2 separate regions of the Homo sapiens genome follow, and region 2 is linked to region 1. The links come from fine-mapping of genetic effects on gene expression. A gene starts in region 1. The other region holds a variant in brackets. All regions are shown on one strand. Distances are from middle to middle. Region 1 holds the start of SCAMP5 (secretory carrier membrane protein 5). Region 2 overlaps C15orf39 (chromosome 15 open reading frame 39).

The links.
Region 2: its variant is fine-mapped to the expression of SCAMP5 in whole blood (INTERVAL, PIP 0.98).

What each region holds. Positions count from the first base shown.
Region 1 is chr15:74,992,627-74,997,988 of GRCh38, reverse strand. It overlaps SCAMP5 (secretory carrier membrane protein 5), which reads right to left and starts at 2,426. Exons shown (of 7, transcript NM_138967.4): 1 at 2,316-2,426.
Region 2 is chr15:75,210,516-75,215,877 of GRCh38, reverse strand. C15orf39 (chromosome 15 open reading frame 39) reads right to left here. Exons shown (of 3, transcript NM_015492.5): 3 at 3,709-5,129. The coding sequence ends at 4,762. Among named protein-coding and RNA genes, the nearest start is that of C15orf39, 11 kb to the right of the region's middle. RefSeq lists an enhancer at 1,044-1,103. The variant A/C (reference allele first, on the strand shown) is at 2,832.

The sequences.
Region 1 (5,362 bases):
TGGCACAGAAATGGTGATTCCTTTTTGCTGCCCAGAGCCAACCTGCTAAGATGGAAGTTTCCCCCTCCTGCTCTACCTCCAATCCCCTCATCCCACTCCTAGCCCCATCTTCTGCCCTGAAATCCCAGAACTATGAATAATCCTCAGAAAACAGCAGTCTCCTGGCCATGCTGTCCCTGTCCTACTGATGACTATTCAGTAGCCTCCTACAGATCTTTGCCTGGCATTCAAGGCTTTGTGCCAGTCAGCTACAAACCTCCCTCCCACCACCTTTGGCTGCTCACAGGTTGACCTGCCTCCTACACTCCCAGCCTCATGCAGGAGATCATCTCTAGCCGCCCCCTCTGCTTCCAGTGCCCCTAAATTGGCAGCACTATCAGCTCCTCTAAGTCCTGCTACCTTCTCACATCCCACCCCTTCTGGGAAGCCTTTCCAAAAATCGCTGCTCTGCATCCCGCTGCATACATTTTGAGTCAGTCATTGGGCACTAAGTGTTCACGTCTTCTCCCATAATCTCCTCACTCCCTCCTGGATGGAGTTTCCAGGAGGGACCCAGCACAGAGCACAGTCAATCCATATACTTGCTTAAGACTTGGACACTTTCCCAATGGGTGGGAGGGAGGCAATTAACGCCCTCCCCCAATCAGATTAAGCCCAAAGCTGCTGTCAAACCTGCTGTATCACACTTCCTCCAGGAAACCTTCCGAAACTCCTGGCTGGCAGCAGGGAAGGAAGTGCAGCCTGTAAAGGAAATGCTGTGGGGGGCAAGGGGTGGGGATAGGGACAGGGAGGCAGAGGGATAGGGGAGGAAAGGAAAAGGAAGAGGGAGAAGAAAGGGGGGATGCTCTAAACTAGAACAAGGAGCATCCTCAAGGGAGGTCACTACTTAGTCCTATTATTTCATCTCTAGAGAAAGGTGCTAGAAAGAGATGCCCAGAGAGGGGAGGTGACTTGGGGAACTTGCTTGGAGGTGGCCACTCAGGAAACGGTTAAAGAAACAGCCACAGAGCCCAAGGTCTCTCTCTAGAACTCCCCTCCTGGGACCCCACTAACTCTCCAAGGGGTTTGCTAAACCTAAGACCCTCTTTCAGGGGCCCATTCACCAGAGACAGCCCCCTCTCAGCTCTAGAGACTTTGCCCTAAGGCTCACCAAGCCCAGAACAAACCTAAGTTAGCAAGACCTGTGTAGCCCCAAACAAAATCTCTCTGCCAATCATGCCCCTGCAAGAACCATCTCCCTCTTTCAGAGCCCTGCTCCGTGAGGCAGAACATGTAGGGGACAGGTTGCAAATTTCTCCAGACTCCACCACCCCATGGGCAGTCACATGGCTGAGCTCCCAGGCTCAGCCCCCAACAGCTGTGCTCGTTTTCATCCCTGTGCCTTTGCCCATACATTCTCCTGGAATGCCCTCTCTTGCCTCTCCTCCCACCCAAATCCCATCACCTCTGGAAGTCTCCTATTCGCTAGCTGTCGCCTCCCTTTCTCTCTGTGTCCCTGGGAAAGTCTGCCAGGCCCTCACTGATCTCCCCATCGGGAAGCTGGGACATTACTTGTTTAAGCCGCCTGTGACAGTGAATGCTCAGTCCGAGTCTCTACTTGGTTCCCCCAACCCACAGACCAGGAGCTCCCCGAGGCGGAGGACAAGGATCGGTTCACAAACACCTCACCTCCATCCTCGTGACCTCCGGCCAGCGTTGAAATGAGCCAAATCCGGCGCCCCCAACTCACCACCCAAAGCCCTGATGGAGCCCGCCTGGTGGCCTGGGCCAGCGCGCCCGTCGCCTCGCAACCCTGGGGCGGCTGAGGTCCGCCATCCAAAGGTCGGCCGCCCGAGGGAGGTGAGGGAAGTCAACCCGGGTCCACCTGCAGGCGCTAGTTGGAAGGAAAGGCCCAAAGGAAGCCACGGGCACCCCCTTCCAGTCGCCCCCATCCCCGGCTGCGCACGCCATCTCCAGAAGGCCGGTTTCCAGGGAACGCCAGGTGGGGCTGGCGGGGGGGATGGAGGGCCCAAAGCTCAGGCTCCAGATCCAGGGTCTGACGTCACCCAAAGGCCCAGTTCCCTCTGCGGGAGCCACAGATGGGAATGGGGGGGCTTGGGGGGCTCGGGGGGCCTGGGTGCGCCCTGAGCGCTCTCCCCCAGCCCCAAACAGTAAAGGTCACCTCCACTCCCACCTCTCCAGCAGTTCGGCCTTCTTCCTGCATCCAAAGGTGAAGTGTAGGAGGAACAAAGCTGCAGCCAGCGACCCCCACACCTCTCGCCCCGCGCCCAGCTTCCCTTCAAAGCTCTCCTCCCAGCCTTCATGCCCAGACTCACCTGCCGCGGCCGTTCGGCTGCCGAAAGGCCGCAGCGCTGCGCTGAGCTGCGCTGCACCCGAGCGATGCGGCGCGGAGCCGGCCGCGAGCCGCTCCGGGGCTGGGGGCGGGGAGCGCGCGCGCGCGCGCGCGCGCCCGAGGCCGTCTCTGCGCGCGCCCGCGCCGCCACTGCCTGCAGCAGTCACTCTCGCGAGACTTCCGCTCTGCTCCTAAGGCTGCTCCTCCTGAGCTCGCGAGAAGGACGACCCGGCCGCCCCGGCATCTTCCAGGAGCTGTCCGAGGTGCTAGTTCCCGGGCCCCGGCCGGATCAGGTGGTTGACGGGCACCTCAGGGACAAGAGCCTGGCGTGTAGGTGGAAGGAAGAGACCCAGAGATGGGAGCCTGGCACCAGCAGCCAGAGCCTCAGCTTCCATATCTGTAAACTGGGGAGAATAACCTCCTATACCTATGCCAGGAGCCTCTGGGACGTGCCAGAAAGGAGTGAGAAAGAGCTGAAAGCAGGAGAGTGTGGTGACTGCGGAAGGTCCTTCAGATCTGCAGGCGCAGGGGGAAAGAGAGAACAGAGGACGGAAGATCGGAGATGATATTCAGAGAGGCAAGGACACAGATCCACGGAAAGACGACATAGGAGGACGAGAAAGAAGAGCTGCAAACAGAGACAGAGACACACGGAGAGAGAGACTGAGATGAGAGCTCAAGGCCTGGAGAGAAAAAAGACATGGAAAGATAAGATAGGTAAGGGAGCATAATGAAGCAAGAAAGAGGCAAGAAATAGAGACAAATTACGCAAAGGAGCAGAGAGAGAGAGAGAGAGAGAGGAGAGGCTTAGAAAAAGAAAGAGACTCAGAAAAAGGAATGAAAGAGACAGTGATATGCAGAGATGAATACCAAGAGAGAGTAGAGGCAAGGGTAAATGTTTAAAAACCCAGAGCTTTGGAGGGTTGAGAGAGACCCACTTGGAGAGATGGGCTGGGAGTGAAGACAGGATTTTATTGTGATTGGTGTTTACATAGTAAACCTCCGTGGGATCTCTACAGGCAGGGCCAGGGCCACTGTCTGTCCTGCCAGCCAATTGCTCCTTCCCCTACACCATACACCCACCCTCCACCCCCCACCCACACCATCCTAGGCCTGGAAGGGGGCCTCAGTGGGTGGGAGACACTGCAGGGATTCTTTGCCTAGAATAAGGGCCCATTGTCTGGCTCCATCCTGCCAGGAGTGGGGCCTCACTCCCACAGCTGGCATGAAAAGGGGGTGGCAGTGAAAAAAGGCAGACAAGAACTAGTGTGGCAGAGGGGAAAAGGAGGGAGAGAGCCTCGGTGCCTGGGAAGGGCTGAGCAGGAAGCATCATCCTGCCACCAGGCCAACCAGGAAGGAAGGGTCCTGGGCTTCGGGGCAGGACAACTGGGTTCTGTGTCAGTCCTGTCCCTGGTTGACCCACATGCTGTCTCTCCCTGCTATAATGCAAGCCAAGGCTGATTTACAGAGCTGTGGAGAGCAGCCAATGAGATGACAACTGGGAACCTGTCGAAGTTATCAAGTGTGGCTGCTACAGGGAAAATGTTGGGAGTCCATGTGGGCCTCAGGAAAGATATAGGGGTTCACATAGGCCTTTAGGAGAGAGATCTGAGGTCCACACTGGGATCCACAAGGAAGATGTCTGGAAACCACATGGAATTTATAGGAGATATCTTGTGGTTCATGTAGGTCCTACAAGGGAAATATTGGGGTTCCCGTCTGATGACCACGGACAATTTTTCTCCACTCAGAAGAATCAGAAGGGTCTCCTATTTGATAAACAACTAACGTAGGAAGAGTGAGCAGGTCCAAAGTCAGAAGCCCACCTTTGTCCCAGTAGATTGTACCTTTCCTATTCAGGTAAATGGAAGGGAACAATGATCACTTAAACAAACGTTTACTTAATAGGCATTTGCTGGTTACCTACCATGAGAAGAAGCATACAGCAGTGGTTAAGAATATCAACCTAGAAGGCAGACCTTGCCCCTTCCCTGCAGTGTGAATTTGAGAAGGTACTAATCCTCACTGAACCTTAGTTTTCCACATATGTAAAATAAGGATGGTGATAATGGGACCCGTGTCTTAGGGTTCCTGCAAGGATGAAATGAATTAATACATGCAGACACATGTAACATATGGGACTGCCTGGTACACAGTAAGTATTTAATGATCTGTAAATAGATGGATAAAACAATTTTTAAAAATTAAAAATAAAGTATTTAAGCCAGGCACGGTGGGTCACGCCTATAATCCCAGCACTTTGGGAGGCCAAGGCAGGCGAATCACTTGAGGTCAGGAGTTCGAGACCAGCCTGGCCAACATGGTGAAACTTCATCTCTGCTAAAAATACAGAAATAGCCAGCCATGGTGGTGTGCACCTGTAATCCCAGCTACTCAGGAGGCTGAGGCACAAGAATCCCTTGAACCCAGGAGGTGGAGGTTGCAGTGAGCCTAGATGACGCCACTGCACTCCAGCCTAGGCGACAGACCAAGACTTCCTCTCAAAAAAATAAATAAATAAAGTATTTAAAGGTGCTAGCTCAAACTGCGTGGCAGGCACTGGAGACATGTCTTTGTTGTAGTGGAGGGCAGGGGTGAGAGAGCCTGTGCCAAACCATGCAGTAACACATTTCAAGCTTCTTTGCAGATGTGGAGAATGTCACATCTGCTCATATGCCATTACTCAAAGCAAGTCACATGGGTAAGCCCAAAATTAATTCATGGGGGTCAGGGAGGTATGCTACCCATACAGGATGCCAGATAAGTCACATGACAAATGGTGGGGACATTTAATCCCATTGCAGAGGGAGCAAGTAACTGGGAACAGGAACCCAATCAATCAATGTCCCACAGGGCCAGCTCCAGGCTGCTTATCTTTCCCTGCCTAGCTATGCCTGAATGAGGCATGTCCATCCAAGAGTCTCTGGGAGAATATTTATGTTACAGGCCAGTAAACGAATAAAAATAGAAGTATTTACTGAACTTTTAATGTCTGAGTGAAATGCTAAACTGCATGACCATCCTAAGAAA
Region 2 (5,362 bases), 220 kb before region 1:
AGGGGCACCCGCTGAGCTGGCAGAGGCCTCCCCACCAGTCCCAGGAATGCTGGAAAACAGGCTGCCAGGGGATTAGGGCCAGAAGTGCCCAGGAGGCCAGGGGAGAGGTCTAAGCTAACTCCAGATAGGATAGCATCCACAGGTCTAGAAGAAAGCTCCAAGCTGGCAACACCCAGAAGGGGCTGGGCTACCAAGGGCTGGGGGCTGGGCATGCTCACTGGCCTCTGGGGAAGCACTGGGCAGATCTGGTGGGGACCAGTCTTTTAGTAGCTAGGGACTCTTGTGGCCTGCTGGGCTTAGAGATGCCAGGGTGGCAGCAGATGGCAGGGTGGGGCTGGGGAAGACCTGGCCTCTGGAAGCTAGGGTCCTGGTATGTCCGCGGGGCCAGGAAGTGGCAAGCAGAAGGGTGGCAGCAAAGGATGGACAGGGATACCCCAGATCTAGCCCAAGGGAGGTACCAAGCCTTGTGGAAAGGCAGGCGGGCTCCCCAGGTCTGTTGGAGAACCCAGGCCTCCTTGAGTAGCGGCTGTCTCCAGGGTCTCTTGCCTACTTAAGGCAGCTGGGAGCCCAGGCCTCACTGAGGAGTCATCAAGGCCTCAGCAGGAGGCAGAGAAGCACTAGCTTTCTGTGTAGTAGGGCCCAAGCTGAAGCCCCAGCCCCTCTGAGGGTGTAGTGGGATTGGGTCTAAGAGGTTTACAGGGTTTGAGGAGGTGCAGCCAAGCTTGGGACCCCAAGTTCTGAATTATATGGAGAGGAGCTAGGGGATACAGGAGGGGCCTGCCCTGGTCCCATCATCCAAATCTGAGGAGGAAAAGGGTCTGCAGATGCCTTATCAGAGGCTCTTGAAGAAGCAAGGGATCCCCTGACAAACCCAGAAATCATAGAAGAGGCCCCTTGAGGTCCTTCCAAGGGGCTCAGCACCCCTTCCTAGGACCCTGGGTTCCAATTGTCCTAAGAAATCACAGGGACCTGGAAGCTGGGCCCCTCTTGGACAAAGGCAGGGTGTGGGAGGAACAGTGGCCAGGCAGGCTGAGGCTAGGGGCTGTGGCAGGAGGGGTGGAGGGCTCATCGACACAGGCACCTCTGAGTGGGCCATAGCTAGAACATCCAGAGTTGGAGTCCCCATGGAGGCAGCAGCGTCCTCAAGGAGGCCCCCAGCTTCCCGCCACCCTGGAAAAGGGGTCCATGTGCAGCAGGAGAGACAGGAGGGGCTTGGCAGCATTCCCCCATTCCCATCTCCTGGGCAGACAGGGCTCCAGAAGAGCTGCACTGGGTGCTCCCCACTGAGGGGGTGTCTGGAGGTGGGGTCTTGGGGAGCTGCCCATGGAGAGAGCACAGCATATAGCCAGCAGCAAGGCCATGTCCACGGGCTGAAGCGTCCCCATGGCCCGCCTCCCACCACCAGCTGGGGCAGCAGGCTGGGCTCGGGGTTCGGCCCTCCCTTCTCCGGCACAGGAACTGCAGGATGAGAAGAGTCACAGCCAGTCAGGTCAGAGTCGGGTCCTGCTCCGAGGATCCCCAAAGGAGGTTTGAGGGAAGACTCAGCTGGCTCGACTCAACCCCCTTAGTGAGAACAAACTCACGGGAAGAGGAACATCAATGAGGCCAGGAATGACAGAGGGAAAGAGGCGTCTGGAGTCACGAAGGGGCTTTGGGGTCTTCACAACACCCCAGACATGGGCGTTGCCAGCAGCGACAGGGCAGAATGAGGCCTCAGGACAAGCAGGGCTCAGCACCAGGGTCCCTGCCAAGGCCAGGTTGGGGTGGTGTAGTGCTGAGCCTGGCTGGAGGTGCTGTTCCCTATGAGACGACTCTGTCCGGGGAGCCCCTCTCCCCTTCCCAGCTCCTACTCTCCGAGTCCCCCAAGACAGGGCTGTCATCCTTCCCACTCACTACCTTGCTAGCTCCACTCCTGTCAGCAAAGCCGGCCGCCCAGGCCCTTTGCCTTTTGTATTGGGCTAGGGTGCCAGGTGGGGCATGGTGAGGCTGGGTCTCACCTGAGCCCCATTCTTAGGTGGACCTGCTCGGGTCTCCTTGGGGGTGGGGGCGGGGCCAGCACACTCCACTGCCCTCACTCCTTCCTTGCCCTAGGGGTGGCAGCCCTAGGTAGGGCGCTGCTTCCCTCAGACTAGGAGTCCTGGGCAGAGTCTGGTTCCTGCCCCCACCACCTCAGACTGGGGGTCCCTGGGACACTGTCATATCTCCTTCCTTAGACTAGAACTCCCAAGTCCGGGTTAAGTCTCTTCCCTCAGACTGGTGCAGGGGAAGAGAGGGCCTCCCTGCATAGAGCTGTCGTCGCAGAGCAGCACCTCACTCCAGCCAGGCCTGGCTCTCCACCACCCCAGCCAGGCCTGGCTCTCCACCACCCCAGCCTGGCCTCTGCACCATTCTGAGTCCTCTGGGGCCACAGAGGAACCCAGGTGCGAAGCCCTACCTGTTCTGAGCCCTCACTCTGCCTGGTCACCATTGGTAAGATGTGTGTCAGGCATACAGCAGGGGCACAGGTGTGAAGGGAGGGAGGGAGAGGAGAGGACGGCGGGAAGGGAGGACCGAAGGAAAAGGAATAAAGCGCTCACTCCATTAAGGTGCTGACGATGAGATGGATGTGACTGATGGGGCTGACGAGGTGCCCATGGCTGCCCAGGGCCCGGGGGGCCCAGAGTTCAGAAACTCCACCTCCACTGCAATTCTTTCCTCCCTGTAGTAGTGTCAAATGATTCCACGTGGCTCACATCCCCATTCTTCAGGTTGTGGGACTGAGTCCCTGGGTTGCTGGATTTCTAGCCAGGCTTCCAAGCCCTGCTCCTGCCCCTTCTGGTTCTGGGAGCTCC[A/C]GCCTCGCCTGGGGATTTTCCTGTTCCAGACTCACCAAGACTCTGCACGTGCGGCTCTCTCTACCCAGACCCCACTTTGCATGTGATTTTGTATTTGTCTTCAAGGTCCAATTCAGGTATCACCTCTTCTGGGACCCAAGGACCCTCCACCCTGGTTGTCACTGCAGCAGCCACAATGTGTTGTGGTTACCTATCCCTTCACAGCCCAGTAGCTCTTCTTGGGCCTATATGAACAATGGAAGGGGACAATGGCAGCTGCCACTCCAAATCCCAGCCTAGTGTTAAGGCCAGGCTGGCACAGGAGGGACAGTGCAGCTGGGCTCAGTGACCACCACCAGGATGCCACACAGGTCCAACAAGCCCCAGTGGACTGGCCCCTGGCCCAGGGGGAGTGGGAAGACAGGCCCAGGAAGCCACCTTAGCTGCCCTGAGAACAAGCCTCTGGGGGAACAGAGCCCAGCAGGGGCAGGGTCTCCAGAGGGTGGGCCCAGCACACTACCCCCCACCCTCCAAGCTAAGGTCAGTGGGATGCATGGTCACCAGCAATGGGGAGGCTGTAACAGTTCTACCCAGACCATGAAAGACATGTCTGGCCCTGGGAGAGAGGCACGTGCTGGGTCTAATGACCAGCATTTCTCACCAGGCAGTAGCCCACAGACCAACAACCACGAGGACCCACGGGGTCTCAGGAGAGAGGGCTTTCCCAGAGCAAGCAAGTATGTGTGTGAGAGGGGTCCACAGAGCCACAGCCATCTGCACGAGGGTGCAGAAGCACCTTCTGGACTGGGAGCAGGGAGAGCAGCCTGCGAGCAAAGGGCTAAGCACACAGTGACGGAACATGAAACCGACCATCCCCAAACACACGGACAGGCCCCACTTCCAAAAACGAGCCAGATGCTTTAATGGGCTGCCTCCAGGGCCCATCGGCTCATCAGAATCCCTTAAATGAGGCCCAGAGCTTGCCAGCCTTTGGTTGAGCTCAGCACTCCACAGGCAGGTGGCTCACAGCAGGCCTGGCTGATGGGCTCTGGCTTGGGGAGCAGCAGGGTCCTCAGTCCAGATCTTCAGAGACCTTCTAGGACTGAGCTGCCACTCAGCCTACCTGCACCAGTCCCTGAGTCCCAGCAGCTGCTTAGCTTCTAGAAAACATAAGTTTCCTGGGATAATGCCAGGGGTGGGGGAGGCAGTTCAGGGAAGCACTGATGTCAATTCAGGACAGGCCTGGGGCCTCCTGGGGTGGCGGCAGCAGCAGGCCCAGAACAAGGACGCCAGCTCCAGGCTGCATCCCTGCACCAGTAGCGGGGATTGGGAGCAGGGAGTGCAGGCTCCCTCAGGGAGCTCCAGGCTGGAGTAGGGCCAACCCAACCCCAAATGCTGGGGGGTGACTCCTGAAAGTGTGAGTCACATCCACTGCCTAAGGTACCACTCTACGATAGCCAAGTCCTAGGACACACGAAGACTTTCTATAGGAAGGTTCTCTGCCTCCAATTCTAGGCCCTGTCCCAGAGAGGAAGCAGAGACCAAATGGTGACAGGGTATGTATCAGGCAGCATCCCCACAACAACCCTGTGAGGTAGGTTGCGTTGTCCCATTTTACACATGGGGAATGAGGGCTCAGCAGAGGTGAAGTTTCTTGCCCAGGTCCTGCAGCAAGAACACGAGCCGGGATTCAAGCCCAGGTCTGTCGGGCTCCAAAGCCCATGTGTGTTCTCTAGGCAAGAAATAGGGAGTAGTCCTATCCAATAAAGACCCTCACGTTAAAAGCTCAGGGGCTCTTCAGCCCACCCTGAATGGGCCACAGGGTCAGAGATGGAACCCCTCCAGGGGAGCAGCCACAGCCCCAGCATCCACTCGTGGCCCCGGGGCAGCTGGGCAGGCAGAAGGGAAGGGTGGAGAGTGACTGCTATACACACAGCACTGGCAACCAGTGCTACAGGTGATGGCTCTGGCTGTCCAGCAGCTGTGGGCAGGGTGAGGGCTGGTCTGGTCTTGAGGACTTGTGGCCCCAGGTGGGCAGAGCCAGGCCATTGAGCCAGGCGGTCTCCAGCAGACTGCGGAAGCGGGCCTTCAGTGTGGGGCCAGGTGGGCTGGCACTGGTAGCAGGGGTAGGGGAGGCACCACAGGACTCTTCCCCAGCAGCTGCCTCTGCTTTCTCCGGGCCAGGGGTTGGTGGCTTCCTGCCTGGCTTCCTGACCTTGGGGGCCGGTGACTTCTGAGCCAGGGCTAGGCTCTCTGGCTCACCTCTGGCCACAGTGGGCTCTGAGGAGGACACAGCTCCAGCCTCAGTGTCAAAGTCACCTGGAAAACGAACACATAGTCAGCCTGCAGACCCCATACCCTCAGGTCCCACCTCCTGGCTTCCAAAGCCATCCAAACAGTGCTTCTGCTCTGCCCCAAGTCAGGCTGGCATCACAACTCTTCCCCACACATGCCCACTGGCCAGACCATCCAAGCAAAAAAGATGTGCTTCTCCCCAGGTGACACCAGAACTCTATCTGATGAGGGCACCACTCAGGAGAGGCTGTTTGGGT